Regions from separate parts of the Homo sapiens genome. Here region 2 is linked to region 1. The links come from fine-mapping of genetic effects on gene expression. A gene starts in region 1. The other region holds a variant in brackets. All regions are shown on one strand. Distances are from middle to middle.

Region 1 (16,129 bases):
AAAACTCCTCAGTGGCCCCCACGGCCTTCAGCATCAGGTCATAGCCCTCTATCCTGCATTCACAGAGCCTCTCCATCAAATCCCTGTGGTCTCTCTTGCCTTTTCTCCTTCCTAAGCCTCTCAACATGGAGTGCTCCCAAAGGCTGAACACTTTCTTTTTTTTTCCTTCTTGAGACAGGGTCTCACTCTGGCAACCAGGCTGGAGTGCAGTGGCACAATCATGGCTCACTGCAGCCTCAAACTCCTGGGATCAAAGGATCCTCCCACCTCAGCCTCCTGAGTAGCTGGGACTATAGGTGTGTACCACCACACCCTGCTAATTAAAAAAAAAAATGTTTTTTTTAAGAAATGGGGTCGCCAGGCGCAGTGGCTCACACCTGTAATCCCAGCACTTTGGGAGGCTGAGGTGGGTGGATCACGAGGTCAGGAGATTGAGATCATCCTGGCTAACAAGGTGAAACCCTGTCTCTACTAAAAATACAAAAATTAGCCGGGCATGGTGGCAGGCGCCTGTAGTCCCAGCTACTCGGGAGCCTGAGGCAGGAGAATGGCATGAACCTGTGAGGTGGAGCTTGCAGTGAGCCGAGATTGTGCCACTGCACCCCAGCCTGGGTAACAGAGTGAGACTCCGTCTCAAAAAAAAAAAAAAAAAAAAAAGCGAAAAAGAAACGAGGTCTTGCTATGTTCTCCAGGCTGGTCTGGAACTCCTGGCCTCAGGCATTCTCCTTGCTTCGGCCTTCCAAAGTGCTGGGATTACAGATGTGACACCTGGCTGAACACTTTTCAATCTCTAGGCCTGTGCGCATGCTGGTGCCTTTGCCTGGAGTGTACCTCCCCCTCTCCTGAACCTCCTCTACTGCAGTCCCTGTCCAAATCTTCCTCATTCTTCAAGGATCATTCTGACTTGACAGAAGGTGTGGGTTGCAACCCTGGCTCTGCCACTTAACCAGTTGTGTGGCCTGCAGCAATTCACTCCCTTTCTCTAAACCTGTTTCCTCATCTGTAAAATGGGATAATAACACCTACCTCAAAAGGCTATTTTAAGATCAAATGAATTAATGAACCCTGAGAGCACTTTGTGCATTATAAACCACTGTGCACAATGCTCTCTGGTAAATGCCACCTTCTCTGTGATGCACTCTCCATAAATGTTCAAGTTAGGGTTAATGGCTCCTTTCTCTGTGTTTGCATAACACTTTGCTCACATCTCTCTAATAGCAATTAGCCCATTTGCCTCTTATTATAGCTTCTGAACTCCTTTGAAGTAGAGAGAATGTTTTAAAGACAATAGTAAACAACAATAGCTGTCACTTATCAAATCTCTATGTCCCAGGCAATGTGCTGGGCACTTCACGGTCATTCTCATTTAATCCTTATTTGATGGAATTAAGAGATAGGGTCATGTTTTCTGTTTTACAGATGAGGATGCTGACACTCAGAGATGTTTAGACACTTGTTCTACGTCACACAGCCCCCAAGGCAGGGTTATAAAACCTGTGCTTTTTCTACAAGGTAGAATTGTTTCCAGGGACCTTCAAGATACAGTAGTCAGCAGGCAGTCTACAAAACCCTGGCGACCCATCTGAGGCTCTTACCGAGGTGAGCAGCTTGGTCAGCACAAGGCCTTCATGGCTCCAGACACTAACACATTCCTCACCCATTCTAGGGCTCAGGGTGGCATTTCCAGCCCCCTCCTCTGAGCAGGATATGGGTGGCTGGCTGGAGGGTAGGATTCCTGGAACAGCACTAAAATATAGGCAGGTTCCTGCAGTCCTTTCTGTGGTCACCCTGGCTGTGATAAGGACCAGTTGTCCTGCAGAAGATCCTGTGAAAGGCACAGAAGAGAAAATGGAAGAAAATGAGAGGTGACGCGGGAGCCTCTGTCTTCACGCTTCTTTTCTTGTATTTTCTTTTTTTTTTTTTGAGGCGGAGTCTCGCTCTATCACCCAGGCTGGAGTGCAGTGGCGCAATCTCGGCTCACTGCAAGCTCCGCCTCCCGGGTTCACACCATTCTCCTGCCTCAGTCTCCCGAGTAGCTGGGACTACAGGTGCCCACCACCAGGCCCAGCTAATTTTTTGTATTTTTAGTAGAGACGGGGTTTCACTGTGGTAGCCAGGATGGTCTTGATCTCCTGACCTCGTGATCCGCCCGCCTTGGCCTCCCAAAGTGCTGGGATTACAGGCGTGAGCCACCGTGCCCGGCCCTTTTCTTGTATTTTCTTTCTTTCTTTATTTTTTTGAGATGGGGTCTCACTTTGTCGTGCAGGTTGGAGTGCAGTGGCACGATCCCAGCTCACGGGAGCCTCAACCTCCTAGGCTCAAGTGATCCTCCCACCTCAGTCTCCTGAGTAGGCAGGGCTACAAGTGTGTGCCACCTACCTGGCTAATTTAAAAAAATTTTTTTGTAGAGACAGGGTATCACTGTATTGCCCGGGCTGGACTCAAACTCCTGGGCTCAAGCCATCCTGCTACCCTGACCTCCCAAAATGTTGGGATTCCAGGCATGAACCACCACGCCTGCCCCTAGTCATTTTTTAAGGCTTTCTATAATACCAGGTGTTTTGGCATTGATTCTATTCAATAAAGTATTCCATATACCATTATTTATATCACTGAGAAATGAAAATAACTTTGTATCAATATAAACACAAATTAAGTTGTAATTTAAATTAACTTAAATTACAATCAATACAACAACCATACTAATACTCGCAAGGCTGCAGTGAAATGGGCAGATACACATTGCCCATGTCAGTTTGCATAAACTAGTTCATTCTTTTTAAGAAAGCAGTTTCTCACTTGGTACCAAAATCCATTAAAAGGTTCTCACCCTATTTTAAATTAGTGGGGAAAGGATGGCCTCAGTAAATGGCCTTGGGAAAATTTCCATGTAGAAAAAAACATAGCGTCAAACTGTTATCTTATAAAATAAAGTTCAGATGTATTAAAGAACTATACAAACTAAAAAAAAACTTAAGTATTTAAAGAAAATACAGAATATTTTATTTTATTTTATTTTATTTTATTATTTTTGAGACAGAGTTTCACTCTTGTTGCCCAGGCTGGAGTGCAGTGGTGCAATCTCAGCTCACTGCAACCTCCACCTCCTAGGTTTAAGCAATTCTCCTGCCTCAGCCTTGTGAGTAGCTGGGATTACAGGTGCCCACGACCATGCCTGGCTAATTTTTTGTATTTTTAGTAGAGACGGGGTTTCATCATGTTGGCCAGGCCAGTCTTGAACTCCTGACCTCAGGTGATCCACCTGCCTCAGCCTTCCAAAGGCTGGGATTATAGGAATGAGCCACCACGCCTGGCCAGAATATTTTCTAATTTTAAAATGAGGAAGGGCTTCCTATGAAAGACACAAAACCTAAAAGTTTTAATAAAGGACAAGAGTGATAAACCTAACCTCATAAAAATTAAAGACTTCTATGCAATGAAAGATAAGTTAAAAAAACAAGTAACATATTGAAAATACCTATAATATATTTAAATGACAAAAGGTTTACTATCTAGAATAAAGACCTACAAATCAAGAAGAAAAAGACAAATAACTTAAAAGAAAAAGGAACAAAGGAAACAAACAGGTAATTCACAGGCAACATGAATACAGACAATAAACCATAAGAGGCTCAACCTTACTAGCAATCAAGAGAAAGTAAATAAAACAATTGGGTAATACGCCAGACCCGGTAGCTCATGCCTGTAATCCCAGCACTTTGGGAGGTGAGGCAGGAGGATCACTTGAGCCCAGTAGTTTGAAACTAGCCTGGGCAACATAGTGAGACCACATCTCTATAAAAAATACAAAAATTGGCCAGGCGCAGTGGCTCACACCTGTAATCCCAGCACTTTGGGAGGCCAAGGCGGGCGGATCATGAGGTCAGGAGTTCAAGACCAGCCTGGCCAACATGGTGAAACCCCATCTCTACTAAAAATACAAAAATTAGCTGGGCATGGTGCCACATGCCTGTAATCCCAGCTACTTGGGAGACTGAGGCAGGAGAATCTCCTGAAACTGGGAGGCAGAGGTTCAGTGAGCTGAGATCGCATCACTGCCCTCCAGTCTGGGTGACAGAGCAAGACTCCTTGGGCTGGGGGGCGGGAATTAGGTGAGCGTGATGGCGAGCACCTGTAATCCCAGCTACTCAGGAGGCTGAGGCAGGAGAATGTTTACTGCAAGCCCTGCCTCCCAGGGATAAGCAATCCTCCCACCTTAGCCTCCCAAGTAGCTGGGACCACAGGTGTGCACCACCACGCCTGGCTTTTTTTTTTTTTTTTTTTTGTATTTTTAGTAGAGACAGAGTCTTGCCATTTTGTCCAGGCTGGTCTCGAACACCTGCGCTCAAGCAATCTGCCTGCCTTGGCCTCCCAAAGTGCTGGGATTACAGGCATGAGCCACCACATCCGGCCCTAACTGTACACTTTCAATGGGTGAATTGTATGGTACATGAATCATATCTCAATAAAACTATTATATATCTATTTAAAAGTAAAAAGAATGGGAAAGAATTGTCCCAAGTCTGCATATATCGGACACATTCCTTATTTTTGTTAACATACATGTACATCTGGACATGCAGAGACCCACTCCCCCGACACATATATACTCACAGGAGAATCTTAGAATGATAGTGTTGTAAAGGACCTCAGAAGTCAGAAAATACCACCCTCTTCCATCCCTCTTTATCTTAGCATATTTTAGATAAGGCCAAATGTCACACAGGGATTATTGGCATCCACTGACATTTTCACATTCTCCCTATCGCTTGTCATTTTCCCAGAAGACTATAGCTCTTTGGAAATTGATGGTGTCTAATTTTTTTCTGCATCTTTTGTGGCATACAGAACTATGCTAAGGAAAAAGGGGCCTCTAGGAGGAGGTGGCTAAAGGATGAGAAAACATTAGGTCAAACCTAGCCCATTTCATCCTACCTCCAAGGATAGACTCAAAGAACATCAGAACTGGCAGAGGAAGAAAGCATTCATAGAAAACCTACCCTGTCGGCAGCATGTTCACTGAAAGCCCTAATCACAGAAGTGACTAAAGTCCAGGGATGTGCCCAAGGTCATCATTGGTGAGGTCAGAGGCAGGGCCCAGCCCTGAGTGTTCTGATACCCGACCCCACAGTCCTCTGTGATCTCACCTTACTTTTTTTTTTTTGGCGCAGGGTGGTGGGGGGGGCGCGGGGCGGGACAGAGTCTCTGTTGCCCAGGCTAGAGTGCAGTGGTGTGATCTCTGCTTATTGCAACCTCCGCCTCCCAGGTTCAAGCGATTCTCCTGCCTCAGCCTCCCAAGTAGCTGGGACTACAGGCACCTGCCACCACACCTGGCTACTTTTTGTATTTTTGTTTGTTTGTTTGTTTGAGACGGAGTCTTGCTCTGTCTCCCAGGCTGGAGTACAGTGGCACGATCTTGGCTCACTGCAACCTCCACCTCCCGGGTTCAAGCAATTCTCCTGCCTCAGCCTCCCAAGTAGCTGGAACTACAGGCTTGCACCACCAAGCCTGGCTAATTTTTTTTTTTGAGACCGAGTTTTGCTCTGTTGCCCAGGATGGAGTGCAGTGGTACGATCTCGGCTCACTGCAACCTCCGCCTCCTGGCTTCAAGTGATTCTCCTGCCTCAGCCTCCTGAGTAGCTGGGATTACAGGCACGTGCAACCATGCCCGGCTAATTTTTGTATTTTTAGTAGAGATGGGGTTTCACCATGTTGGTCAGGCTGGACTCAAACTCCTGACCTCATGATCTGCCCGCCTCGGCCTCCCAAACTGCTGGGATTACCGCTGTGGGCCACCGCAACCAGACCACCAGGTTAATTTTTGTATTTCTAGTAGAGACGGGGTTTCACCATGTTGGCCAGGCTGGTCTCGAACTCCTAACCTCGTGATCTGCCCTTCTCGGACTCCCAAAGTGCTGGGATTACAGGCATGAGCCACCGCACCTGATTTTTTTTTTTTTTTTTTTTGAGACAGAGTCTTGCTCTGTCACCCAGGCTGGAGTGCAATGGTGCGATCTCGGTTCACTGCAACCTCCATCTCCTGGGTTCAAGCGATTCTCCTTCCTCAGCCTCCCGAGTAGTTGGGATTAGAGGCGCCTGCCACCATGCCTGGCTAATTTTTGTATTTTTAGTAGAGATGGTGTTTCATCATGTTGGCCAGGCTGGTCTTGAACTCCTGACCTCAAATGATCCACCTACCTTAGCCTCCCAAAGTGTTGGGATTACAGGCGTGAGCCACCACACCCAGCCTCTGATCTCACCTTTCAATCCCATCTGACTTCCCAGGACTGTGGCCTGGAATGTCCGGGTCTTGTTCCTGTCTGGACCGTCTCCGAAGTTCAAGGTGGTCAGCAAGCCCACGACGTGAGACCCTCGCCACTTCCCTGTGACTGTCCCATTCCTGGGACACAGGGTCAGCTGGCCAAAAGATCTCAAAAAAGAGACCCAGTCCTGTGAGCAAAAGAAGACGGGTGAGATGAGATTAGCAGCAAAAGCCTGTCTAGGTTGGAAGGAAGAGCGGGTACGGGGGTGGGGAACTTACCTGGGGGATGTCAGGGCTGCGCAGGCCAGTCCTGTGGGTGAGGAGGAAGCTGCCAAGGCCCAGGCCAGAGAGGCCAAGGAGCAGCAGGATCAAAGTGGCACAGACCAGAGGTGGGTGGTGGGCCAGACACAGGTGCAGGTTGTGCCCTGCCTGGCAGTTGCCCATGGGGAGCAGAGGGGGCTGAGCCTCCGGGGAGAGCCTGCTGGAAGACAGGGAGGGAGAATGGGACAAGAGCACCGCTTTTACGCAAAGAGAAAAGAAAGCTCAGAGAAGACAAAGGACTTCCCAAGGCCACACAGTAAGTGGCAGAGCCAGAACAAGAATCCAAGGTTCCCGACTCCAAAAGTTCAACTCCCTGCACTGCTGGATAAATATTTGCTGCATTTCATTTCTGAAGTAATCTAAGTGGAGGCAGAGCAGTGTACTCCGTGCTGGAAGAAGGAAACTGAAAGGGAGACTTCTCAGCTGGAGAAACAGGAAGCACTGTTCTGGGGCGAGGATTTGGCTGAGGAATAGTTCCAGCCAGAGCCCAGACAAGGGAAGACTCTGGAGAAGAACTCCACTGTGCAGCTAAACGGCTAGATCTGAATCCCTTTCTGTTATTCACTGACTCTGTGAGCTTAAGAATCCATGAAATGGGAGTTCTGAGAACACCAAGTAATAAGGATTAAACGTGGCGGATGAAGCAGTCTGCGTGGTATTTGGCCATGCAGGAATTCAACAAATGTCCACTTCCTTTCTCTTTCTCGTACAGATCCTCAAAACCGGGTAAGGCGAGGCAAAAAATACTGTGAGGGAAACTGAGGCTCGCGGACTTTAACACAGGAGGGGTAGGGCCAAGATCTGAACCCCGCCTCCTGCTTCCAAGTGGGGTGCTCCTTCCCACGCAAGGTGCGACGGCCTGATGGAAAAGAACTTCTGGAAGGCGAAGAGATAAACAGGGGTCGGGGGAAAAGAAGGGAGCCACGGAAATGTAGGTGTCACAAATGCTCAGCCCTGCCCCGCCTCCCGTCCGGCTGGAAGGGGGTTAAAGGGAGGGGAGGGCAGAGTCTGAGGGTCCGCCGCCGCTGGTGCACCTGAGCACCCCCTCCCCGGAAAGCCCCCGCCCCGAACGATTGCAACGCCCTCGTCCCCTCCCGGTCTCGCGCGTCGGATCCGCCAGCCGCTCGCTCTTACCCCTCGGGGCCGGGCGGAGGCCGGCGCCCCCCGCGACGTCACGAGCGGGGCCGCGAGGGGGCGGGGTCCGTGCTCTGCGCTTCCGTCCCCGACCCTCCTCCTCGCGCGGCCCCGCCCCGCGGCCGGGTCCGCATGCGCAGTGGCCACGCGGGCGCCAGCCTCGCAGCTCACCGCCAGGGTGGGGGCGTACCAAAGGGACACCCAAGGAAGGAGCCACCAGAAAGGAAAACCTCCGTGGGAGGGGTGGAAACGGGAGCGAGGCCAGGGAGCAAGTGCGAGAAACGTCGCAGAACCCGTAGGCTCCCTCCAGAGAGACTGGCGAGAACTGCCCCAGAAGCTTGTCGCGGGCATTTTTGGGCTGTGCGTCCCCTACCCGCGCCAATAGCACAGACCAGCCGCGCCCGGGTTCCCGGTGAGGACTCGGCATCCGCTCAGAGTTGCAGGGCTGCCACTTGAGGACTCTGTCCACTGGGGCTGGGAGTGGTGTTTTGGACTCCGCTCTTCTGTGCACCCCGATCTGCACCTTTCTCGTGGACCCTGACTTTTAGTGACTCCTTAATGTATAGGATGCTGGAGCTGAAGAGTTGCTCAGTAGAGAGCATCTCAGTTCACTTCTGCCCAAGTTTTGGAGGTGAGAACATCTGACTGGAGGTAGCATGACACATGGAGCCAGGAACTTTGGGTTCAAATCCTGACTGTCCGTACCCTCGCATAAGCCATAGCCGCGCTCTCAGGGGACTAAGCTTACCCCTCTACTAAAGAGGATCATCCTATCTATCTCACCGGTTGGATCAGAAGCTTAAAGGGTAAAATGTGGGAAAACATGGGCCCAGTGCCCACTAAGCACACAGGACAGATGCTACTTGAAACGGAATCTATTTAATTCGACTGTGGCTTCCTTAAGGCAGAGGCCATGTCGTTTGTATCAACAGCCACAAAAGTTTGTGGCACAAAACCTTCGCATATACAAATGATTTTTTTTTTTTTTGAGACGGGGTCTCAGTCTGTCGCCAGGCTGGAGTGTAGTGGCGCGATCTCGACTCACTGCAACCTCCGCCTCCCGGATTCAAGCTATTCTTCTGCCTCAGCCTTCCGAGTAGCTGGGACTACAGGCGCACGCCACCACGCCCAGCTAATTTTTGTATTTTTAGTAGAGACGAGGTTTCACCATGTTGGCCGGGATGGTCTTGATCTCTTGACTTCGTGGTCTGCCCGCATCGGCCCCCCAAAGTGCTGGGATTACAAGCGTGAACCACCACACCCGGCCGATTTTTTTTTTTTTTTTTTTTTTTTTTTGACAGAGCCTTGCTCTGTCATCGCCCAGGCTGGAGTTCAGTGGCACAATCAAAGCTCGCTGCAGTCTGGACGTCTTGGGCTCAAGAGATCCTCCCGCCTTAGCCTCCTGGGTAGTTGAGACAGCCGGTAGTCACACGCCACCCACCATGCCCAGCTAACTTTTGCATTGTGTGTAGAGACGGGGTTTTGCCATTTGCCATGTTGCCCAGGCATGTCTCGAACTCCTGACCTCAAGCAGTCCTCTCGCCTCGGCCTCCCAAAGTGCTGGGATTACAGGCGTGAGCCACTGTGCCCTGACTAGTCAAATGATTTTTGACAAGGGTGCTGTGGGCGTTCAGTAGAGAAAAGAGTCTTTTCTGTGCATCGAAGGACACAACAGGCTGGGCACGGTGGCTCAAGCCTGTAATCCTAGCACTTTGGGAGGCCGAGGCGGGTGGATCACCTGAGGTCAGGAGTTTGAGACCAGCCTGGCCAACATGGTGAAACCCCATCTCTACTAAAAGTACAAAATTAGCCAGGCATGGTGCCGGGCGCCTATAATCCCAGCTACTCCGGAGGCTAAGGCTGGAGAATCGCTTGAACCTGGGGAGTGGAGGTTGCAGTGAGCTGAGATTGCACCACTTCACTCCAGCCTGGGCAAAAGATCAAAACTCTGCCCCACAAAAAACAAAAACAAAAAAAGGAAAGGACAGTGAAAAGGCAACCAACAGAATGAGAGGAAATATCAAATCATATATCTTATAAGGGGTTAATATCTATAATATATAAAGAACTCCTACAACTCAACAACAGCCCAATCTCAGCTCACCTCAACCTCTGCCTCTCAGGCTCAAGGGATTCTCCTGCCTCAGCCTCCCGAGTAACTGAGATTACAGGCACACGCCACTATCACCTGACTAATTTTTGTACTTATTAGTAGAGACAGGGTTTCACCATATTGGCCAGGCTGATCTCAAACTCCTGACCTCAAATGATCCACCCGCCTTGGCCTCCCAAAGTACTAGGATTATAGGCGTGAGCCACCGCGCCCGGCCTAATTTTTTGTATTTTTAGTAGAGATGGGGTTTCATCATGTTGGCCAGGCTGGTCTCAAATTCCTGACCTCAGGTGATCCACCCGCCTCAGACTCACGAAGTGCTGGGATTACAGGTGTGAACCACCGCACCAGCCAAGTATACCAACATTTTGACTTAATCCACTCAACAAGCCCTCAAAGTGGATGTTATTCTGGAAAGCTGGCCCTTAGTTTAAGTCAGGGGTCCCCAACCCCTGGGCCGTGGGGCCAGTACCAGTCCGTGACGTGTTAGGAACTGAGCCGCACAGCAGGAAGTGAATGGCTGGTGAGAGAAGCTTCATCTGTATTTACAGCTACTCCCCATTGCCTGCATTACCGCCTCAGCTCTGCTTCCTGTCAGATCAGTAGCGGCATTAGATTATCATAGGAGCATGAATCCTATTGTGAACTGCGCATGCGAGGGATCTAGGTTGCTCCTTATGAGAATCTAATGCCTGATGATCTCTCACTGTCTCCCATCAACATCAGATGGGACTATCTAGTTGCAGGAAAACAAACTCAGGGATCCCACTGATTCTACTTTATGATGAGTTGTATAATTATTTTATTATACCTTATAATGTAATAATAATAGAAATAAAGTGCAAAATAAATGTAATGTGCTTGAATCATCCCGAAACCATTCCTCCCCTGGTGGAAAAATTGTCTTCCATGAAACTGGTCCCCAGTGCCAAAAAGGTTGGGGACTGCTGGTTTAATTTAACCAAGGTCATACATATATTAGGTGGCAGAAGTTGGGTTATGATTTAAGCCTGACCACAGCATGGCATGTGGGAATGAGAAAGCCCTGTTGAGGCTCGTTCATTCAATAAGCATCTGTTGGCTGCCAGGCTGTGTATTCTGTGGGCTGGGAATATAGTGGTGGACAAAGTATTCATGATCTCTGGCCTCCTGGAACTACAATCTGGCATGTTCAGGCTGGGCGCAGTGGCTCATGCCTGTAACCCCAGCACTTTGGGAGGCCGAGGCGGGAGGATCACCTGAGGTTGGGAGTTCAAGACTAGTCTGACCAACATGGAGAAACCCCATCTCTACTAAAAATACAAAATTATTCGGGCGTGGTGGCATATGCCTGTAATCTCAGCTACTTGGGAGGCTGAGGCAGGAGAATCGCTTGAACCCAGGAGGCGGAGGTTGCAGTGAGCCGAGATCACGCCATTGCACTCCAGCCTGGACAACAAGAGCGAAACTCCATCTCAAAAAAAAAAAAAAAAGCAACAGGAAAAGTGCATGTTTGCCTAAACCTTTTTTCTTCTTCTTCTTTTTTTTTTTTGGAGGCAGAGTTTCACTCTGGTTACCCAGGCTGGAGTGCAGTGGTGCGATCTCAGCTCACGGCAACCTCTGCCTCCTGAGTTCAAACAATTGTCCTGCCTCAGCCTCCCTAGTAGCTGGGACTACAGGCGTGCGTCACCAGGCCCAGCTAATTTTTTTGTATTTTTAGTAGAGACAGGGTTTTGCCATGTCATCCAGGCTGGTCTCGAACTCCTGACCTCAAGTGATCCATCCACCTTAAGCTTCCCAAAGTGCTGGGATTACAGGTGTGAGCCAGTGAGCCCCACCTTTTTTTTGTTTCTTTTTTTTTTTGAGACAGGGTCTTGGTCTGTCACCCAGGCTGGTGGGCAGTGGCGCAATCTTGGCTCAGTGCAACCTCCCTCCTCACCATGCTCAAGCAATCCTCCCACTTCATCCGCCCAAGTAGCTGGGACCACAAGTGTGCACCACCATGCCAAGCTATTTTTTTTTCTCTCTTTTTGTATTTTTAGTAGAGACGGGGTCTCACCATGTTGTGCAGTCTGGTCTCGAACTCCTGAGCTCAAGCCGTCTACCCGCCTCAGACTCCCAAAGTGCTGGGATTACAGGTGTGAGCCACCCTGCCCGGCCCCATCTAGACTTTTTTTTTTTGAGATGGAGTCTTGCTCTGTCGCCCAGACTGGAGTGAAGTGGTGTGATCTCGGCTCGCTGCAACCTCCAACTCCTGGGTTCAAGTGATTCTCCTGCCTCAGTCTCCTGAGTAGCTGGGATTACAGAGGCATGCCACTGTCCCTGGCTAATTTTTGTATTTTTAGTAGAGACGGGGTTTCACCATGTTGGCCAGGCTGGTCTCAAACTCCTGACCTCAAGTGATCCACCCGCCTTGGCCTCCCTAAGTGCTAGGATTACAGGTGTGACACATCGTGACTGGCCAAAAAAAAATTTTTTTTTGAGACGGAGTCTCGCTCTGTTGCCCATGCTGGAGTGCGGTGGCATGATCTCTGCTCACTGCAAGCTCCGCCTCCTGGGTTCACACCATTCTCCTGCCTCAGTCTCCCAAGTAGCTGGGACTACAGGTGCCTGCCACCACACCCAGCTAATTTTTTGTATTTTTTAGTAGAGACAGGGTTTCACCATGTTAGCCAGGGTGGTCTCGATCTCATGACCTCGTGATCTGCCCGCCTCGGCCTCCCAAAGTGCTGGGATTACAGGTGTGAGCCACCGCGCCCGGCTTTTTTTTTTTTTTTTTAAGGTGGAGTTTCACTCTTGTAGCCCAGGCTGGAGTGCAATGGCGCAATCTCGGCTCACTGCCACCTCCACCTCCCGGGTTCAAGCGATTCTCCCACCTCAGCCTCCTGATGGGACTGCAGGTGCCTGCCACCACGCCCGGCTAATTTTTGTATTTTCAGTAGAGACGGGGTTTCACCATCTTGGCCAGGTTGGTCTCAAATTCCTGACCTCTTAATCCCTCTTCGGCCTCCCAAAGTGCTGGGATTGCAGGCATGAACCACTGCACCCAGCCCAAAAAAATTTTTAAGTTAGCTGGATGCCCAGCCACTCTGTAGTCCCATCCTGTAGTCCCAGTACCTGTAGTCCCAGCCACTCTGGAGGCTAAGGCAGAAGGATCACTTGAGCTGCAATGAACCGAGATTGCCACTGCACTTCAGCCTAGGTAACAGAGTAAGACCCTGTCTCTAAAATAAATACATAAACAAATAAATATTACTTTATTAAATCATGTCAATAACAAAGCAAATTATTATCCCTATTTTATGGATGAGAAAACCAAGACTTAGCAATGTTAGCAAACTTGCCCGTGGTCTGCAGCTAGCCCACCAGCTACATGTCCCACACAGGAAAGAACAATAAAAATATAGAAAAAAAATAGAATAATATGATTGCCTGGAATAAGAAATATTTATTCCAAAATAGAATTTAAAAATAGGATAATATGATTACCTGGAATAAGAGATACTTTCTGAAGCAAGACACACAAATATAGAAACCATAAATGAAGAAGGTTGATAAATTTAATTGTTTAAAATTTAAAACCTCTGTATGATAAGATCCCACGTGAGTGAGAAGTGGGAGAAAATCACTGCGGTATATATAAACTGTCAAGGGATTAGAAGTTGCTAACATTTTTTGTTTTGTTTTGTTTTGAGATGGAGTCTCGCTCGGTCACCTAGGCTGGAGTGCAGTGGGTCCATCTCAGTTCACTGCAACCTCCAGCTCCCAGGTTCAAGCGATTCTCCTGCCTCAACCTCCTAAGTAGCTGGGATAACAGGCGCTTGCCACCACACCCAGCTAATTTCTTTTGTATTTTTAGTAGAAATGGGGTTTCACCATGTTGCTAGGCTGGTCTCGTACCTCTGACTACAAGTGATCCACCCACCTTGGCTTCCCAAAGTGCTGGGATTACAGGCGTGAGCCACCACGCCCAGCCTGTTTTGTTTTTTACTAAGGTAAAATTTACATAGAGTGAAATGCACAGATCTTAAAGTATAAAATTTCATGAGTTTTGACAAATGTAATGCCTATCTAAACACCCCAATCAAGACATAAAACACTTCTAGGTCCAAGAACTTCCTTCCCTTCCCTTTCTAGTCAGTCCCCACTGCCCGTGTCCATAGGCAACTACTATCCTGATTCCGTAACCAAAAATAGTTATTTTTTTCTTTAAAATGCCCAGATTCACTTAATAGACTGTAAGTGTTGTTAGAAGAGGATCTGCCTGATTTTTTTCTTAGTATTTGTGTGTGTGTGTGTGGTAAACAACATATATAATATAAAACTTGCCATTTTAGCTTTTTTTTTTTTTTTTTGAGACAGATCTCGCTCTGTTGCCCAGGCTGGAATGCAATGGTGCAATCTTGGCTCACTGCAACCTCCACTTCCTGAGTTCAAGTGATTCTCCTGCCTCAGCCTCCCAAGTAACTGGGATTACAGGTGTCTGCCACTACACCTGGCTAATTTTTTGTATTTTTAGTAGAGACGAGGTTTCACCGTATTGGCCAGGCTGGTCTTGAACTCCTGACCTCAGGTGATCCACCTGCCTTGGCCTCCGGAAGTGCTGGGATTACAGACATGAGCCACTGCACCTGGCCATTTTAGCTATTTTTAAGTGCACAGTTCAGTGGTATTAATTACATTCACAATTTTGTGCAACTGTCACTACTATTTCCAAAACTTTTTCATCACTCCAAACAGAAATTCTGTAACATTAAGCAATAACTTTCTTTTTTTTTATGGGAAAAAAATGGATGATTTATTATATAAAAGTATGATTGGCAGAATACAGAAAAACTGTTTTTTTTTACCTTTACGTGTTTATTACAAACACCAAACAAGGTGTAACAATTGGAAGAACGAATTTCAAACTACCCAAAATTATTCATTTGGTGAAATTATTCAAGTCACGAATGCTAAGTAAATAGATGCACTTCAAAATATGCAAAGTGTGGCTGGGTGCAGTGGCTCACACCTGTAATCCCAGCACTTTGGGAGGCCGAGGCAGCCAGACCACCTGAGGTCAGGAGTTTGAGAGAAGCCTGCCCAACATGGTGAAACCCCGTCTCTACTAAAAATACAAAAATTAGCCATGCATGATGGCAGGTGCCTATAATACCAGTTACTTGGGAGGCTGAGGCAAGAGAATCACTTGAACCTGGGAGGCAGATGTTGCAGTGAGCTGAGATCAAGCCACTGCACTCCAGCCTGGGCGACAGAGCAAGACTCTGTCTTAAAAAAAAGAAAAAAATCAATGTAATACACCACATTAATAGAATGAACCGGGGAGAAAACACATGGTCATCTCAATTGATGCAGAAAAGGCTTTGAAAAAATGAACACCCTTTCATGATTTTATTTATTTATTTATTTATTTATTTATTTATTTATTTATTTATTTATTTTGAGACGGAGTTTCACTCTTGTTGCCCAGGCTGGAGTGCAATGGCGTGATCTCGGCTCACCACAGCCTCTGCCTCCCAGGTTCAAACAATTCTCCTGCCTCAGCCTCTGGAGTAGCTGGGATTATAGGGAAGCGCCACCACACCCGGCTAATTTTTTTGTATTTCAGTAGAGATGGGGTTTCTCCATGTTGGTCAGGCTGGTCTCGAACTTCTGACCTCAGGTGATCTGCCTGCCTCGGCCTCCCAAAGTGCTGGGATTACAGGCGTGAGTGAGCCACTGCGCCCAGCCAAACCCCTTTCATGATTAAAACACTCAATAAACTAGAAATAGACAGGAATGTCCTCCAAATGATAAAGGCCGTAAACCACAGCTAACATCATACTCTACAGGGAAAGACTAAAAGCTTGTACCCTCAGACCAGGAACAAGACAAGGATGCCTGCTCTCACCACTTCTATTCAACAAAGTACTAGAAGTTCTAGGCAAAGCAATTCGCCAAGAAGAAACAAAAGACTTCCACATTGGAAAGGAAGAAGTAAAAGGATCTCTTTTCACAGATTATATAATTATATATAGAAAAATCATAAGAAATCCACACAAAAATTTTAGAATTAAGTTCAGCAAAGTTGCAGGACATAAAATCAACTCAGATTTTATACACTTGCAGCAAACAATTTGAAAAGGAAATTTAAATAATAACTTCCTTTGCAATAGCATCAAAATAATAAAATACTTAGAAATTTAACCAAGGAGCTCAAAGATTTGTACACTGAAAATTACAATATACTGCTGAAATAAATTAAAGAAGACCCCCAAAAGAGAAAACATCCCACATTCATGGATTGAAGGACTTAATAGTGTTAAGATGGCAATACT
Region 2 (10,487 bases), 780 kb before region 1:
TCACTTGGGAATTCGGCCACCCACATCTAGTTAAATCAAGGGATGTAAACTATTGATCCACAGGCCAAACACAGCCCTCAGATGTGTTACGTTTTGGCCGGTGCAATTTTTTTTTTATTTTTTTACACAAATCTGAATTCATACATCATAGGTGGGGCAAAACCCTCCACCTTCCACAACACTTCCTACTCTCTTACTCTTGGCCACTTCACAGTTTCAATTTCCTGCGCAACCACTAAGGGCATCTGAGTTTGAGGCCATGTTTTAATTATGACCCAGCTTTAATGAGCCTCTTTGAGAATCTGATGAAAGCTGGAGACATCTACCACACGCATACATTTTTGCGATTTTAAAGACCCCCCCCTGAACTCCTACTCATACCTCAAGACCCAGCCCAAAGGTGACTCCTCCTGAGAAGGTGTGCTTTTCTGGAATCCCATAGCACTTGATACAGACCTCTACCTATCTAGCCTGATGCCTTTTTAACGTTCACGTGCCAATTTCAGTCACTTCGGGTGGAGTACCTCCAGGGCATACGCATCTTTTCTGCCCTCCCCGTGTTGAGCTTTGTGTTGAAGGCATAAATGAATGAATCCGTGAAAAAATGGGGTTGACCCAAGGTAAGAGTCTAGTCACTAGGTGTTCTCCACTGATCACTGATTCTTCCCATTTAGAACTATTCAGTCAACCAGGCGCGGTGGCTCACGCCTGTAATCCCAGCACTTTGGGAGGCTGAGGCGGGCAGATCACGAGATCAGGAGTTCAAGACCAGCGTGGCCAATATGGTGAAACGCCCGCCTCTACTAAAAATATAAATTAGCCGGCGTGGTGGCGCGCGCCTGTAATCCCAGCTACTCGGGAGGCTGAGGCAGGAGAATCACTTGAACCCAGGAGGCAGAGGTTGTAGTGAGCCGAGATCGCGCCACTGCATTCCGGCCTGGGCGACAGAGCGAGACTCCGTCTCAAAAACAAACAAACAAACAAACAAAACCAACTATCCAGTCTTCTCCTGAGAAAACCTGAACTTGAAAGACACACACACACACACAGACACACACACCACCACCACCAGCACCACCAGCACCAGCACCACCACCACCGAAAGACACACACACACACACACACCACCACCAGCACCACCACCAGCACCACCACCAGCACCACCACCACCAGCACCACCACCAGCACCAGCACCACCACCACCAGCACCAGCACCACCAGCAGCAGCAGCAGCAGCAGCACCACCACCACCACCACCACCACCACCACCACCACCACCACCACCACCACCACCACCACCACCACCACCACCACCACCACCACCACCACCCGCGAACTCTCCAGCCTTCAAACGGAAGCGGGAATGCTGGGGCTCGACCTCTTTGGACCTCCGTTTCCCTGGCCGCGGCCTTACCTGCCGATGACGTCCTTAGGGTCGTACTTCTGGTAAAACTCTTTGGCGGCGGCCCAGTCGGGCAGCTCATCCTCCGGCCCCACGTCCAGCGTCATCCTGAAGGAGGCGGGGGCCTGCGCGGAGGAGGAGGGCAGTGAGGGCAGGGAGGCCCACAGGCTCTGAGACGACCCGCATGGCGGCTCCCGGGGGCGCAGCCCTTGCAGCTGGGGCGCCAGGGTCCTGGGGGGTGGGGGGGGGTGGGGGAAGGACCCGGACTGGGGAGACCCCGCAGAAGAGCCTGGGGGCGGGAGGATGGCAGGGCAGGGAGGGGAGTGGGGAGATGTGCCCAGGAGGCAGGGGGAAGGGGCGCAAGGGCAGGCGGCTGTTGCCGCGCAGGCGCATTCGGGCGGGCGCAGGAAGGGGACGGGGGTCTAGCGCAGGCTCACCTGAGGGGGCAGGCAGAGGAGCCAGGGTCGACGCGAGCTGCGCTGTCGCCGGGTTTGCCTGCAGTCGCTCACCTTAACCCCCGGCGGCGGGCGACAACCCAAGGCTCCGCCTCCATCCTGCCCGCCAATGGTCAGCGCCGCCCGAAGACTGAGGCTCAGAAGCCCTTCCAATTGGAAACCGGCCGCCCAATTGGGGCTGGGGCGTGAGTCGGCGCTCGGCTGGACCTAAGGCTGCAACGCGACGCCGGGGCGCGGCTTCAGACGCGGCCAATCACCGAGTGGCATCTGCGGGACAGCAGAGGGCGGAGCTTGTTGTCACGTGGGCTTGGAGGCCTGGAATGGGACCCGGAAGTTGGGTTTACTGGGAAACGTGATCTCTGGGTGGCGGGGAAGCAGGACCTTCCCGCGCCTCTAGTTCCCAGACTTGAGCAGGGTTCCCTCGGTCTCCTCCAAGCATCCCTAACTGAATTCAGCATTTTCTCTTTTTTCAGACAGGGTCTCGCTCTGTAGCCCACGCTGAGGCTGCAGTGTAGTGGCGCGATCATAGCTCACTGCAGCCTTGAACTTCGGGGCTCAAGCGATCCTCCCGCCTCAGCCTCCCAAAATGCTGGGATTACAGGCTTGAGCCACAACGCCCAGCAAGCTCTTTTCAATATTAGCAGCCTGGCCCAAAGCGCCTGTCCTGAGTACACTCCAGCCCTTAAAACATTTGGACACACGCAGCTTGGACTCCAGCTTGGCCTCTTAGTTCGGACTTAAAATGCCAGAGGAAGCCTTTTCTGTGTCCGCTTCAACTCCTCCTAAATACATCCAAAGCCCTAGCGTTTACTATCTGGGATTTACACACTTTCTCAATCTTCCACCCTCTCCCAAAAGCCTTGTATCACACTCTGTTCTAAACCCACCAGGTTGTTAGATTCTGCCAGGAGTGACTCAGTGCATAGCTCAAACCTGGCATTCACTAACAAATTTTTATGACCGTCTAAGACCTAGGAACTAGACTGAGAGCAATGAAACAACACACACACCCCTACCCTGTGGAGGTTATGTTCCAGCCAAAGAGGAAAAGAATTAACTTATCTCCCTACAGCTATCTTAGAAATGACACTTTGGGATTACAATTATGAGGGAAGAAAAATGAATTCAGGTAACTTTTTATAGAGTACTATGACTCTATACCATCAATCTAAAGGCAAAATTGCAAAAAATCTTGAACTTTACTTAGATTTGTTGTTTGGTAATATAACAGGATAATAATTCTGAAGCTGAGTAATCAATATATTGATGTGACTGGAAGCCAAGGTTCTTAACTGTGGGAATCTGGAATCTGGAATCTGGAATGGGGAAAGTGGAGAAAGAACCCTATGATTGACTGGAATTTTTAAAAAGATTTTTAAAAGATGTAAAGTAGATAACATTAACTATTTACTGGCTCTTACCTCTGCTTTCAGAATGCCCTAAGCAGTAACTTCCCAGTAGAACGCCTAGTGTCTAGATGCTGATTTCTCAATAACAGTACCCAATAAAAGGAACTAAGTCTTTTCAGGAGAAATGGCCAATTTCTAGGCTTCAGCAGGGAAAGTACAAGGTGAGTCTGGAGTGATTTGTGCCAGACATTACTAATGAGCGGGGCTTATCACAAGGACACAGGAACCAGATTGAAAGGGTTTCCATAGGTCAATATCGGGGATAAAAATAATAATGAAGAGCATGAGGGAACTTGCTGATGTGCTGCAAATGTTATATTCCTATAGGTGGTGAGTGACTGACTACACAGGTTTATTTACGTTAAAACATTCGTCGGCTAGGCACGGTTAACTCACGCGTGTAATACCAGCACTTTGGGAGGCTGAGGTGGGTGGATCACAAGGTCAGGTCGAGACCAGCCTGACCAAATGGTGAAATCCCATTTCTACTAAAAATACAAAAATTAGCCGGGCGTGGTGGCACACGCCTGTAATCCTAGCTACTCAGGAGGCTGAGGCAGGAGAATCACTTGAACCCAGAAGGCAGAGGTTGCAGTGAGATCACACCACTGCACTTCAGCCTGGGTGACAGAGCGAGACTCCATCTCAAAAAAAAATAATAATAATCAAGCTGCACACTTAAGATCTATGCGTTGGGCCGGGCGCGGTGGATCACACCTGTAATCCCAGCACTTTGGGAGGCCGAGGCGGGTGGACCACGAGGTCAAGAGATCGAGACCATCCTGGCCAACATGGTGAAACCCCGTCTATACTAAAAATACGAAAATTAGCAGGGCATGGTGGCTTAAAACCTAGATGACAGGTTGATGGGTGAAGCAAACCACCATGGCACATGTATACCTACGTAGCGAACCTGCATGTTCTGCTTGTATCCCAGAACTTAAGAGTTAAAAAAAAAAAAAAAAACAAAGAACAGGCCAGGTGCAGTGGCTCATGCCTGTAATCCCAGCACTTTGGGAGGCCGAGGTGGGCGGATCACGAGGTCAGGAGATCAAGACCATCCTGGCTAACACGGTGAAATCCCGTCTACTAAAAATACAAAAAATTAGCCGGGCATGGTGGCGGGCGCCTGTAGTCCCAACTACTTGGGAGGCTGAGACAGGAGAATGGTGTGAACCCAGGAGGCAGAGCTTGCAGTGAGCAGAGATTGTGCCACTGCACTCCAGCCTGGGCAACAGAGCGAGACTCCTTCTCAAAACAAACAAACAAAAAAACAAAAACACTTTCTAAAATGTGTTACCCTTTTTTCCTGATTTAGAAATTGCAGAGGGAATACAATAAAATCTTATCTATAGAGCAGTAGTTCTCAAACTATGTGTACTACAATTAATTGGGAAACTGAGAAATCCTGATGCCAAGGCTGTACCTCACACCGATTAAGTCAGAATGTAGTCTGGATAAAGCCCAGGCCTAACTACTTTTTAAAGCTTCCAGGTGGTTCCACTGTGAAGCTATGTTGAGAACACTGCCCTGTATATTTATCTTCTACCCACTGTTTCAATTCTAACTTCTGAGACCACCAATCTATTCTCTTCCTTCTTCCTGGAGCATTTGGGAACACTGAGGACAGCCATCATGTGCCTCTCCTTCCCCTCTAGTCTCTTCAGTGTGCAACATCTCCAGTTCCTTTAGGTGCTCTTCTGGACTCTGAATTATGGTAAGGTGCTTGCCAGGACAGACGTACTCCAAAAGGCATGACTCATAATAACCCCAAACTGCAAACATCCCAAAGTCCACCAACAGTAAATGGACAAATTGTGATACATTCATATGACTGAATACTACACAGCAATGAAAACTACACCTATTCCAAATATTGACGAATCTCACAATGTTAACATGAAAAGAATACATGATTCCATTTATATAAAGTTCAAATGCAGACAAAATTAAATGACACTGCTAGAAGTCAGAATGGTGGTTACCTGTGGGAAGAAAGGAAGTAGCAGTGATTGGGAGGAGTATAAAGGAGGCTTTGAAGTGTTGACAGTGTTCCAATTTCTTTACTGAATGTGGTTATTCACGTTTGCTTTGTGTTAATGAACTGTATACTTGTTTTGGGTATTTTCCTATATGTAT[GATATA/A]CTTCATAATTTTAAAAAAAATTTGAAATATTATGAGGTCCAAGATAAAAGATATGAAAATCCATTTTAATCACTCAAATCTCCATGTACAGGATGGTTGTTGCTGTTACCCAACTCTTTCACTCCTCTCTCAGCTCTGGAACCAAACTGTCTGGGTTCAGTCTCAGCTCTACCATTTAGTAGCTGAGGACCTTGTGCAAATCTGTTTGTTTCTTCAAGTATAAAACGAGAACACTGTCATTTTAGAACATTTCTTCCAGTTTTCACTCAGATAGTTGGTACCTATCATATGTGATATATTCATATGATGGATATGATAGTACAGACATCTACTGAGTGACTGAAAACTGGAGGAAGTTAAGAAATATAAAGTGCTTAGAACACAGCCTGGAATATAGTAAGTAATAAATAGTAGCAGCTGCTACTACTCTTGGCCTCAGAGTCTCTGTGGACGTACAAGGGAGAAGCTGGGGTCTTTCCAAGAAGGGAAACTTCCAGAAGAAGAAAATAAAAATTGTTTCCTTCTCTTGGAGCTCCTGGATGAGGTGGATGCTGGCTTCTGCTATCAGTCAGATGTCCAGTCTGGCTCTCACCAAGGGCCCAAGGGAAAGCAGGAGGAGAACAATTAGACAGGAGTATTTCACCACTAAAAAAGGCTTTTATTACAAAATGAATTCTAATAAAACCAGGCCTGGTCTTCAACCCCTCCCGCTGGGTAGAGGCCCTAGGGTGGGCTAGGGTAGGGGAGATGGGGGTGGGGGGCCCTGAAAGAACAGAGCAGGCTGCCCTCCTCTCATCAGTCTCAGCTGCTGCCCTCCTTTTATAAAGGGCTAGAAGAGCTCTTCCAAAGCCCCTTGAGAGAGTCCCCATCCTTCCAACCAGGATCCTTCCAACCACTGCTGTCACAGGACCTTAGCAATGCCGCATTGCAGGATCCAGGAGGTCTCGGCTGGCTCTCAGCAGAGGCCATCCAGGGTCACTCAGCCTGAGCGATGGCGTAGGAGAGCAACCACAGCAGCAGGGGACCCAGAATGAGGACAGCAAGCCAGACAGCAAAGCTGGCCAGGATGAGTTTCCGGGCCCGGGCCCCCCAGCGCACTGCCTCCTCGGACCGGCCTGCTTTATGCCGCTCTTCCGCCTGTGGGGGCAGGTTCTTGGTTAGGTTCTCCCCCTGCTTCTGCCCCAAGGTGCCCATTTCCCCACTCCGCTCCCCCTTCCCTGTCACGGATCAAAATCTCACATCCAAACCCTCTACCTCCCTTTCCAGTTTCTGATTCTAACCTCTCATCTGCAAAATAAGGTACCCATCTCTGGGCCCTGCCTACTTCTCAGGGTGGCCATAGCTCACAAGATCGCCTATGGGAAAGTACTTTCCAATTCTGTTATTCCCCATTCTTTCCAACTATCCAAGATTGATTCAGAATTTGTAACTATTGGCAAGAAACAGTGAGGCTAGAGTAACTTCACTCATGCCCAAACACCACCTCATTCTCATAGCCCAATGGGCCTCATCTTTTCCATCTTTTTTTTTTCTTTTTTTGAGACAGTTTCACTCCTGTCACCCAGGCTGGAGTGCAGTGGTGCAATCTCACTGCAACCTCCTCCTCCCAGGTTCAAGCAATTCTCGTGTCTCAGCCTCCCAAATAGATGGGATAACAGGTACGTGCCACCACGCCCAGCTAATTTTGTATTTTTAGTAGAGACGGGGTTTCACCATGTTGGTCAGGCTGGTCTCGAACTCCTGACCTCAAGTGATCTGCCCACCTCGGCCTCCCAAAGTGCTGGGATTACAGGCGTGAGCCACTGCGCCCAGCCTCTTTGTTATCATTAAGGGCCCTTTTTAGGATTTTGCCCTAATGGAACCCAGGAGTTCTTACAGTTTCTGACTGTTAAAATATGTCTAGGGTTGAGAAGATTCCAGCATGAAGTTTAAGTTAGCCTGTGTAGCCTTTCCTAAAGGACATGTGCTGTTTTTTTTTGTTTTTTTTTTTTTTTGAGACAGAGTCTTGCTTTGTCACCAGGCTGGAGTGCAGTGGCATGATCTCAGCTCAATGCAACCTCCGACTCCGTGGTTCAAGCAATGATCCTGCCTCAGCCTCCCCAGTAGCTGGGATTACAGGCACGCACCATCACGCCCAGCTAATTTTTGTATTTTTAGTAGAGACGGGGTTTTACCATGTTGGCCTAGATGGTCTCGATCTCCTAACCTCGTGATCTGCCCACCTCGGCCTCCCAAAGTGCTGGGATTACAGGCCTAAGTCACCACGCCCGGCGGACATGTGCTGTTTCTAATAGGCTTTTTGAAATGGTGAAGCCCTCTCAAAAACCCAAGTGTCTTTCAGACTCCTAGAGATTGCGCTCATCACCGTTCAGCGGCCTCCAGCCTTGCCCCCTCCAATTCACCCTCGATGTAGGCCTTGAGAGTGGATCTTCCTAAAACTCAAATCTGACCATGTCACTTTCCCCTGCAGGAGCCATTCAATGCCTCCCCAGTACTTTCAAGATAAAGTCAAAACTCTTAAGCACAGAACTGGAGGCCCTTGGGAATCTGGGTCCTCTAGCTTCATCTCTCACTATTCCTCACTGGTCCAGTCATGCTCCACAGGCCTTTGTACACACTGCTCCTTTTATCTGGAATGCCCTTCCACACTTACTCACTCACCCTTTAAGATTAATCCTGTCACCTCTCCTAGGATGCCTTTCCAGTCACCTATTCTACCATATACACATATATAATTACATACATAGATCTTCCCTGGCTCCCACACTGTCCTGTGCTTCCTGTATTACGGTACTGATGAACTGCATTCTATTAATTACCCATTTTCACTGTCACCTCTTTCATTAGATTATGGGTCCTCTGACGACAAGGAACCCTGTCTTATTCTTATTTCTGGCACTAGGCCCAGAGCACTGATAGGTATTCAGTGACTGGTCAATGTAGATAGATCAGATACATGAAACCATTGCCTTATACCCACCCCCATTCCCATGGGAATTGCACTCCTCACCTTGATGGCAAACACCAGAGCCATGACTCCCAGGCAAGAGCAGCCACAGATAATGCTAGTAGCTGCCAAGCAGCGGAGGCGGAGCCAGCAGCAGCGGATGGGGGATGGAGGATGAGCAGCTTCCGTGTTGCCCAAGATCTCCACTGCCTTCTCCTCGTCCTCCATCACCTGTGGGCGATAGTCAAGGTACTTGTGAGCCCAACAACAGAGCCCTTGGCCTTGCTTGCTCAGACTCCACCCCTCTCAGAGCATTCTGTTCTCATGGCCTAGCCTGGCACTCAGGAATGTTGCCTTACTGGGGAATTCCTCTAGTGACTCACAGAGCAGGAGAGGAAATGTGTGGCTGGAATCCTTTTACCTAAGCTTGAGGTTCTGAGTCTTTGAAAGCAAGCCAGTGTAGACAAGGCATTATCTGTATTATTTAGTGTTTCAACAAGTGGGAAGAAGCCAAATGACAGGTGCACACCGAGAAGGAGGAAAAATACAAACTCTTGAAAGCTGCTATGAATCTGTTATTTTAATCTGTATTTCAAAGGACTCTACAATTCCCCCAAATTCCCAAGAGGCTGCCCCCTGAGTATTATAGATGTCAGAGAGCAGGACCCTAGGTACTGCAACCCGTTTCAAGCAAAGCAGCCATTTTACATGAAAACAGTTATGGGAATGGAGAAAGGTAAGGAAAATGTACCCAAGTAAGCCCTTTATTACCACTAAAACCAAACATCAGAAAGACTTTACTTCCCTAAGTCAGGGCTTCCTCTGCTATGCTGCCTCCCTGCCACCTCCTCTCTCCAATTTAACCCAGGCCACATAACACAATCAGACTAGTACACTGAGTCTAAATGACCTCATTACCACACAGAAACCTGCAAAATGATGCCCTACTTAATCATTTCTTGTCTCCCTACTTCTCAGGTCCTCTAGGCCCTGGCATCAAACCACCTTTCTACCCTTATCTCCAACCATTCCCCTACAACCCAGACAAAATGAAACCACCTTGGCTCCCTGAACCCAAGTAACGAAGGATAGGAAAGGTGAAAGGGGCGAGACAAGTAGAGAGCAAAGAATGATGTGTGCCAAGAAGCTGCAGGGAAGTAGATACAAAGAAATAACTCAGATGAGGTAAGCACAGAGTCAACAGGAGGACACAAGGAGGGCCCAGGGAGTGAACAGAGAATGTAAAAATGAACAGGGCTCTTACCTGGCTATAGGCCTTGAAGGACTCTGAGTTTCGGCTCCTGCCTCAGCTTTGGTTTGGCTTGGGTGGTGATGGAGCTGACTCAGGGCTCCAAGCCAAGCCCAGGGGTGGGGTTGAGTGGCCAGCCACCACGTGAAGAGCCCAGGGAGCTGGGAAGGGGTGTGGCTGACTCAAACCAGTTTGGCTAGATGAAGAGCAGGGGAGGGCCCAAGGGATGGAGCAACTGGAGCTAGGACGCCTGCCCTCTGGAAAAAGTTGTGAAAGGAAGCACCTGAGCAAGAGGGATAAAAGGGAAAGGTCTGAGGCATCAAAGAGCTCCGAGGAACGTCTAGGAACCGAGGGAAAAGAAATGAGAGGAAAAGGATATCTGTGACTTCAAACTGACTGGGGAAAGGCACCCTACCACATCAAATTCACCAATCTTCCCTCTTCTTGGGTAGATTTCTGCCTGGAACATATAGTCCTGGGCTAGAGATCAGGTGCTAGGATCTTTGCAAGAACAAGAGGGAGGAGAAAAACGATGCCCAAGTTCCCACCCAACCCTCCACCAGACCAGAAAATCAGAAGCCTCCTTACGCGGATGCTCATACAGAAACTAAGTTTATTATTTTTTCTTCTTAAAAAAAAAAAAAAAAGAAAAAAACCTCATTGTAGAGAAGCCCCTCCCCCTTCCCCTAAGGGTGGGGGGCTGTGTGAAAGACAGCTGGGGAATCAAGTACAAGGGGGTGGGGACAGAGACTATCTTGCCACCCTTAACACTGCCCAGCCACGTGGGGTGAAGGGGAAGGGGACTGTGATGATCCCCATTTCCATGACAACCAGTTGCCTACCCCCTACTTTGGTGGGAAGAAGGGAGAAGGCCCCTATG

What was found.
Region 2: its variant is fine-mapped to the expression of TMEM219 in whole blood (TOPMed, PIP 0.98).

What each region holds. Positions count from the first base shown.
Region 1 is chr16:29,953,721-29,969,849 of GRCh38, reverse strand. TMEM219 (transmembrane protein 219) reads right to left here and starts at 7,771. Exons shown (of 6, transcript NM_001083613.2): 1 at 7,718-7,771; 2 at 6,542-6,743; 3 at 6,261-6,450; 4 at 1,596-1,825. The coding sequence starts at 6,706. RefSeq lists a silencer at 7,489-7,938 and an enhancer at 8,289-8,398.
Region 2 is chr16:30,739,843-30,750,329 of GRCh38, reverse strand. TMEM265 (transmembrane protein 265) reads right to left here and starts at 9,688. Exons shown (of 3, transcript NM_001256829.2): 1 at 9,623-9,688; 2 at 8,422-8,589; 3 at 5,134-6,548. The coding sequence starts at 8,586. The coding sequence ends at 6,387. PHKG2 (phosphorylase kinase catalytic subunit gamma 2) reads right to left here and starts at 1,905. Exons shown (of 10, transcript NM_000294.3): 1 at 1,840-1,905; 2 at 1,415-1,527. The coding sequence starts at 1,509. SRCAP (Snf2 related CREBBP activator protein) reads right to left here. Exons shown (of 34, transcript NM_006662.3): 34 at 8,921-10,487. RefSeq lists silencers at 1,679-1,818, 1,859-2,158 and an enhancer at 8,201-9,400. The variant GATATA/A (reference allele first, on the strand shown) is at 5,406.